Linked DNA regions of Homo sapiens: region 1 is reported to be linked to region 2. Evidence: microRNA targets listed by miRTarBase, many of them from high-throughput screens and not tested one by one. Region 2 holds a microRNA gene; the other region holds the end of a gene's coding sequence.

Region 1 (4,413 bases), not on the chromosome of region 2:
CAATTGCTCTTTATGTCTCTACACATTCCCTCAGTAATTTCATCTACTCTCAAAGTTTTAAGTATCACATGTTTTGACAATCCCAAAATGCATATTTCCAGCTTCACTCTCTCTCCCAAACTTCAGACATATCTCCACCCATTTACTCATCATCTCAAATTTGATATATCTCAGCTGAACTTCTGATTTTTCCTCCTAAATTTCTTTCTGCAGCCTCTCCCATCTTAAAGGCAACTCTGTATTTCCAGTTACTCAGAACATGAAGCTTAGAATCATAGTTTTCTCCTCTGTCTTTCACACCTACATCTAATCCATAAGCAAATCCTGGTAGCTGTACTTGCAGAATACATCTGGAATCCAACCACTTCCTACCACTTCCACTGCTGCCACCCTCGTGCGATGCACAAGCTGCAACAATTTCTCATCCTAGAATACTGAAATAGCCTCCAAACTCTCTCCTTGTTCCACCATTGCCCCTCTGTCTATTCTGAACAAAGCACGTGGAGTGACCCTTTTAAAATGATTTAAAGATCAAGTCATTTATCTGCTCCAAGCTCAGCCACCATATCACATTCCAAAATCAAATCCTTTACAAAGGTTGGCAAGGCCCTAGGTGATCTGTAGGGCTGCTTTCAACCCCTCTTATCTATGAATTCATCTCCTTCTACTCTGGTTTGCTCACTGGCCTCCAGTTATGCGCACTTCTTTGCCATTCCTACAACTTCCCACATATGCTTCCACCTTCAGTACAAACAATTCCCTTCAAGCATCTGCTCAAATTTACCTTCTCAATGAGGCCAACACTGACAATCCTGTCAAAAATTGCAACACATCCTCAACCTGCCTGCCCTCACAATTCTCCTCTCCTGTGCTACATTTTTTTTCCATACTTTATCAGTTTATAATTTATTCATATGGTTATTGCTTGTCTTTTTCCATAAGAATGTAATCACCCCCACCATCCTGCTCACCAGTTACGGTGTATCATAATGAGTAACAGTAAAAAGAACTGCACAATAAATTTAGGTAGCTCCACATTAGGGCAACCTCTGGAGAGAAGTTTGCGAGGGAGTTGAGTAACAAAGTTGAGATATGAGGAAGAATATGAATTTCAAAGGAAAAAGTAGGCCTGCATGGTAGGAAACACATGTACCACACATCTGTTACCTCCCATTGACTTTGGTTGTTAGATGTAAATGTAAACCAAATGTAAGTTCACATTACTTCATCTGTTCTGACACCATCATTAAAGAAATCCTGAAGTAAGCAGGTTAAGACAAGAACTGTCCTTATCTGTTGATGCAATATTCTATTAAAAAAATCTGATACTAGAATCTTAAATTCAATCTCTGAATTACATTGTCAGGGCTAATCATTGGGGCTTCTTTTCCTAGCTATCAGTTTTCCTTAAATGTCTGACATTCTTTGGACATCAGTATGTGTTTATGAAGGATTAGATCAAATTGCACAGATAGCTGAGAAAAGCAGTTTCTTCAGCAGTTATGTGTCTGCATTAGACCTCCTTTTTGAATAGAAGCGATGGTTCTCAGTAAATTGTCAGGCAGTGGCCAATCATAGCTCACTGCAGCCTTCAACTCCTCCCACCTCAGCTTCCAGAGTATCTGGGATTATGGGTGCATGTCATCACACCCGGCTAAATTGTCAGGGTTTTTTAACCAGCAGGTACCCACAGGTGAGTATGTGGTCTGCATGCAGAGAAATTGTTTCCCACCAAGCCAACATAAGGAGGCTTTACTCTGGGAGTGCTGCCATTTCTCACCAGCACCCCCTTGACCTTCAAGTGAAAATTCACTTCACCTTTACTCTGCCTTCACCTCACACCCTAATACCCTCAATGGGTAAGTCTTCCCCCAAATAACCCCATTCTTTCAAGACTTGTTTAGTCCCTTGCCTGAGGAAAAAGTTACTTTTGTTAACAACTGTTTACCTGGAGGGAGTAGCTAAGAGCAGAGCTTTCCAATGCAGTTCTTCAATAAATTAATATGAATGAATTCTGCACCCTCACCCAAATCCAATCCTTAAAGCTTCTCCAGGACATCCTGATTGTGGTTTTTCTGATTTATCTCCCAAGCCACACTCTTCTGCTTTATATATTACTGGAATGTCTCAAAACTTGATTTTTTTTAAAATAGGCTACAGATAATCCTCAGCCCAAAATTCAAGGTATAGCTAATTTTATTATTATCAAACAAAACTAGTAGATATAACTTCCAGGAAATAAGTTACATAAATATAACAGAATAAATTCATTTTCTTAAGTTTCAAATTAAAGATGATTAAGAAATACAGCTTTATGTAAAGTTTCTGCTTTTTCTCAACCACGCCTAAAGAGGAAAGAACTGGCAGCAGGAACACTTGCTCCTAGGAAACAAATACAACAAAATTATAATTAAAAAGATCTTCAAGCTATCAAAATTTGTGAGAGAAGGATGGTAAGAATGCAGTAGAAATTACCAAATGACAAACAAAATCCTATCAGTTTTCAGGTTGGTCAAAAGTAACTTCATGAATATAGCCTGTGATCAGCATATGTCCCATAGCTTATATGCCCTCTATACCTCCAGAGTTGCATAATAAACTTTTAACAATAAAACAACAACGAATATCAGGTTGTAAATATTTATATTTCTCTCACATACAATGTTGTATGAGACACTTGTTTTAATATGTATCCATAGGATTAATACTCATATGGAGTATAATGTGGAAAAGTGCAGAACTAAAGAAATAAGTCTATCCGAAAACAAAAGCACACATTTCTCAGGATTTAAAAATATTGCACATAGTAAGGTTGCACAGAAATTACTGGCTGGTTTTACAAACAGAATGAGGTATCAGTCAATCTCTAGATAAAGATGAGAGAGAGGATAAACTACACACACACAAACACATAAATCCATACTAAGACCTAAGAGTGCCAACAACTAAGAAAGAAATATGAAAAAGCTATGTAAGTAGCTATGATTTCAACACTACAAAATCATTTTTAGGCTGGAACCAAACACATAACAATCTCTTGGCAATATTTCGTTAAGTTTTCAACTTTTTTCCAGCCTAAATGACTATGGGCAATAAAACCATTTCCTTTACCCCAGTTCTACTGTAGAAAGGCACAGCGCTGTGGTAAATATCAAACCATTCCTTTCTCAACCTTTCAGTAGCAATTAACCAAGATACTGTTCTCCTTTACTGAATGACTCAATTATACAGTTTCATGTACACTCTGCAACGCAAGTCACAGATGTCATAGAACATGCAACTTTGAATTAGTAAAGGTTTCACTGCAAAAATCATTAGGTTCACACAATTTAAATCTACAATTAACTTTTAAAGTTTAATCAGGTAAACTCAATATTTTCTTGGTAATAATACTGGTGATATTAGTGAGCCCAAGGGCAGGTAGAGAAAAAGCACTAGGCAAAATTACGTGTTTTTTAAAGAAACTTTCCTAATCAGGGAAATAATTAGCATTTTGTCTACTCGTTGAATGTTGAATTTGTCAAAAAAAAAAAACCCTTAAATATATTTAATAGCTATATCAAATTGTTTAAAGTGAAATCATGCACTTGTCAAAATAGTTCACAGAAAATTGTTTAGCATCAAAGATAATGAGGAAGAGTCAACCAGTTGGATTTAGTGAGAATAGAATAAGAACTACTGTCCTGAACAGTCAGTGTATGTAGTAACCATATTTCCTCTTCGTTGAGTGACAGTCCTGCAGTGCTTGCTAGATCCATGAAATCTATTTTCAGTCTGTACTGTATGCTGATTGGTAGAGTCAAAACCACTAAAAGAAAACATTTTCTCCATATCTTCAAACATGTCATCAAATAATCCACCTCCAAAAGAAAATTCTTGGAAATGATGCCTTTGTCTACTGGAACCACCATCCTGGCGTGTCTGGAAATGATTTTCAAAACGCTTCTTGGATCCAGTGTTTTGGTTTTGACCAAAAAAGCCAAAGTCTTTAAATAAGTCATCAAAATTGAAGTTAAATGACTGCTCAAAAGAACTTCCACTACCTCTTTGTCCTTTACCACTAGTAAAAGCACTGTGTCCAAGTGTATCATACTCTTTTCGTCTATTAGCATCTGAGAGTGTTTCATATGCTGAAAGTGACAAAAATATTTTTAGTAACTGAAGGTAAAATATTCAAAATTACATATATTCAAATCTCTTCAAGCAAGTGAACTGAATACTATTATTTTAGGGAAGAATTTCGCATCAGAAATAAAAGCAAAACACTACAAATATAAGCATCAAGTTAATCAAAATTATAAAATAAAGCAGAAACTGTCTTATTAACTGCTGAGTTATCAGCAGTTGGCACAATGCCATCTGCAATACTCAATAAAGTTATTAAATGTTACCATTACTACAAATAAACATGTG
Region 2 (4,413 bases):
ATAGTATTGAGAAAAATATTACTTACTTTTTCTTTAATTTATTTGGAATCATTCCAATATTTTATTATAAACATTAGATTTCTACTGCTTATCCTTTGCATGCAAACATACAAAGTCTAGGGGATTTTTTAGCCACTTTTTGCCACTTAACAACAACAAAAACAAAACAAAGAAATCTTAGTGCTTTTCTTTTTTTCATACAATTGTATATAGCTACAATTTTTTAATGTTCTACCACTTAGTAGGTTAAAATAAATTTATAGAAAAATAAATGGGAGATCAAATATTCATACTTTAACATAAGAACTATCAAGATACTAGAAGGCAAGAGTGATCTTATACATAAATAAGAGTTATATTCCACAAATCATAAAGGAAATATTGATATATTTAACAACATTTTAAAGGGGCTACACTTACATCATAAACAAAGTAAATGAAGAAATAAATAATGGGGAAATGGGATTTTTAACTTATAAGACAACTTTGTGATTAATTTTATATTCTAAATGTATAAAAATGCCATACAAATCAATACCAATGGAGTAAAGAAGCTTAAAATATAATAAAGTCAGACCTAAAAAACTATACAAATTGCTTATAAAGATGTAATAATATTTAGAATCACTTGTCAGATACATATGAAGTAAAATATGCAATTTTACACTGAGATTGGATTGGAAAATCTCTATTTTTTGTATTATATAGTTTTGTAAGCTATTGCATGGGAAATAAGATTTCTCATTTAACTAGATAATATAAATTAGAGGAGAACTTTGCAATCATTATTTGTTTTAAATATTACATGTTCTTGCAGATAATAAATAATCACTTAGGAATTTTGCCTACAATTTTGCATCTCAATAGAAAGCTATAAGAACACAGATATTCTTGATGCATTATTGGTAAAAGCAGAAGAGTGGTGGAAAACAATTGTATACCCACATTTAATGCAAACATAATAAATTTATGACTTATCTCATTATGTTATTTCCCAATTGGATTTTTTCATAAGTTTCTTCTGATAAACACAAAGGATACCAGGAATTGACTCTATATTACTGCTGTCCAATAGATCGTTCAATAAGGAAGAAAATCTTGTTTATTTGTGCTTTCCAATATGGTAGCCACAAGCCACATGAAGCTATTGAGTACTTAAAATTGACTATTTCTACTGAGATATAATTTTTTGTTTTAGAGATGGGGGTCTCAAATTCTTGCCTCAATCTCCTGAGTTGCTGAGACTCAGGATTCCTTCATGCCAGCTCAGGAATTAAATTTACCTATTAATCAATATAAAGTAAAAGTGGATAACCACATCGGGCTCAAGAATATCTTATTGGGCAGTGCAGTTTGAGGTAAATGTTGCTTCTTTAGCCAGTGTATTAGTTCATTCTCACATTGCTATAAAAAAATGCCTGAGACTGGGTAATTTATTAAAAAAAAGAGATTTAATTGGCTTATGGTTGTGAAGGTTGTATGTAGGAAGTATGACAGCATCTGCTTGGTTTCTAGGGAGTCCTTAGGAAATTTACAACCATGGTGGGTGGCAAACAAGGAGTCAGCACTTCACATGGCTGAAGCAGAAGGAAGAGAGAGAGGGGAGTGGTGCCACACACTTTTAAAACAACCAGACTTTGTGATAACTGACTCACTATCAGAGAACGGCACTGAGGCAGTGGTGCCTAACCATTTTTGAGAACTCTACCCTCATGATCCAGTCACTTCCCAATGGACACCCCTCTCTAAGACTGGGGATTACAATTTGACATGAGATTTGGTAAACCTTGGTGACTAATTAGAGTCTGGCTGATATGGTTTGACACAGAGCTAAATCATATGAACCAAACTCTAATTAGTCAATAATTTCTGTTAAAAATTATCCCTCAAATATCTTCCAAATCAGCCTTCTCTTTCTTATACTGATGAATGCTTCTTTTAATTAAATTTTTATTTTTTTCACCTGTATTACTGTACCATCTTTCTAAATGAACTCTTGTCATTTAAAACCAACCCTAAATTCATCTCCTGAGATGTCTGTAAAATGTAGATCTTCGTCACTTCTATATTTGCAAACTTTCAGCTCCCCCAAGTTGTTAATATTTTGGCCCCAGATTCTCCCTTTAGCCTCACATGGCTGCCAAATCTTCAAAACTCATTTACCTTCCAGACATAAAGCTTCTTCTAAAATTCTCTTTATAAAACATCATGCATTTTCATGTTTCCAAAGTTTTGCACATTTGTATTCATCTTTCTGGAATGCTTTCCTCAATGTTTTCACTTTTGTTTCTTCATTTATTCTTCAAAGACTAAGCTCACTTGTAACCTGCTGATAATTAACTATCCCCAGTTCTACAAGCATATTTGTTAGGGATGTCTCTTCACTGTTTATATAATATCCAGTCTTACTACCCCAGTGATAACTAATGATTCGACGAATAAATATGGTCAAAACTAAAAGCTCAGTAGCCAAGAACTAACAACGTAGAATAAATATTCTTCAATGTAAAAGGCAGAGTAGGAGAGAATCCCTGAAAATGGCAAGAATTGCTAGACATTAAATAAGACAGTAAATTTGATGGTTTGAGTTATTTTTTTCTTGTGATCGTCTTATTTTCACAGCCTATCAACATTTCTTCTTAGAAAAAAAGTAATGTTAGGATAAAAAATTTTAAGTAGGAGTGATTATAGCTATTGGGGACATAATTAATGAGATACCCCTCTTCTACTAGTCTATCTTTGAGTCATGCCTTTCTACTTATAATAGTAAGCTGACATCAGCTATAATAGGGAAATTATCTTCTCTCCTGGTTCCGCTAGTGTCTGTAGAAAAGATGCAAAATTTCACCTACTATAGACATATCCCAAAGACATACCCAATGCCGCCTACATGTTTCTCTAAAAACCCATCTTTTACTCATTGTCACTACATTTCCAGTCCACCTACCAAGTCTGCATTAACTAATTAAACAAACAAGCACTGTTTGAGAGTCTACAGAATTACAAGAAACCTAAGCATTCACAATGTTTCTAGTTCATCAGGAAGCTCAGATTTTGATCTATCTTTGGTTGTTAATTTTTCTGTCACTCCAATCATATTATTTGTTCTGTTGTAGTGCATCTATTGCAGGTCCCATTGAAACTCAAGTATGGCTTATCACACTGATCTTCAAACCCAATGCATATATCAGTAATCATACAAATAATAATAATGTTGACACATTACATTTATTACATATTTACTATGTGTAATTTACTATTCTGAGCACTCCTTTACGTTATGTGGTTTGGAGATTTATAGTACTCACTAGTAACTTACTCAAGGGATATTGAAAGAGTCATACTGAGTAAATGCTATTAAGTATTCTATGATACCAGAAACAACCTTAGTATTGCAACCTTTCAAATATAAACATATGTGAGTCAATCTGAGCTGTGGGTGGACACACTCTAGTGTAACCCCCAGGAAGTCACCTATTGTATAATACCATACCCTTGAATGTGGGCAAAACTGGAACTTGCATTTAATGGAATATGACAAAACGTGCTGGGGTATCTCTGCAGTGATTAGATTACAATACACTTATAAGACTTCATTTTAATAAATTGTTGTATAGCTCTTCTCTTGCTGACCTTAAAGAACAAAACAGAGAGGTTGTGAAAATTTCTACAGAAAGGGCTTCATGGCAGGGAAGTGCAGGCAGCCTCTTGGACATGAGCATGTACTTGGAATCCTAACCTATGGAAACTGAAAAAATGAATAGGTATTGTTTTAAGTCACTAAGTTTGTGACAATTTGTTGTGTAGAAATAGAAAATTAATGTAAGGGCTATCCTAAAAGGAAAAAGAATTTAACTTTGGGCCTTTTAACATATTCAGTCTCTTTAATAAAAGGTGGCTGGTTTTACTGTTACAAATTCTCAAATGTATATTTTCACAATTTGTAAGTATATTGATAATTATGTATTATACATTTAGACTCTCAATGAATTTTAATCAAACTGAAAATGTTTTCTCACTTCCCTTCAATAATAAATAGTTGTTTATTTGAAAATGTCTTCTACCATGTCTTAATTTACAGTACCATCAAATATATAATTGAAGGGTAAGAAAATTCTTAAATTATACAATATTAACCAACACATCCCATTTAACAGAACATGGCAATAATGTTTATCTCTTTTTGTTTAATTTAAAAAGTGTTTGTGAGAAGATGGCATAATGGAGAGCAATGAAATTACTCAGAAAGTGGTTTCTGTGAGACTTTAGTTTATGTTAACATCTTATTTTTCCCTCAGGTGTCAAAGATGTAATGTTAATATTAAAATTCTCATTGTCTTAAAGTTTCCTGAATAATAAACATTCAGGATGGAAACAAGTTGGAAAAGACAAACCACACTCCTTAATAATATA

The links. The annotated mature microRNA hsa-miR-5007-3p reads AUCAUAUGAACCAAACUCUAAU and lies in region 2 at 1,835-1,856, shown strand. An mRNA with a match to its seed (bases 2 to 7 or 8) in the 3' UTR can be bound and repressed. Matches are read on the target gene's strand: a 7mer-m8 pairs with bases 2 to 8, a 7mer-A1 pairs with bases 2 to 7 and ends in A, and an 8mer does both.
Region 1: miRTarBase lists DNAJB9 as a target of hsa-miR-5007-3p. Seed matches in the 3' UTR shown: 7mer-m8 at 2,709-2,715.

The regions. Positions count from the first base shown.
Region 1 is chr7:108,572,616-108,577,028 of GRCh38, reverse strand. DNAJB9 (DnaJ heat shock protein family (Hsp40) member B9) reads right to left here. Exons shown (of 3, transcript NM_012328.3): 3 at 2,179-4,130. The coding sequence ends at 3,676. Among named protein-coding and RNA genes, the nearest start is that of DNAJB9, 4.9 kb to the right of the region's middle.
Region 2 is chr13:55,172,675-55,177,087 of GRCh38, forward strand. MIR5007 (microRNA 5007) reads left to right here and starts at 1,780; the gene lies at 1,780-1,874. All of the region lies in intron 4 of LINC02335 (long intergenic non-protein coding RNA 2335), which reads left to right.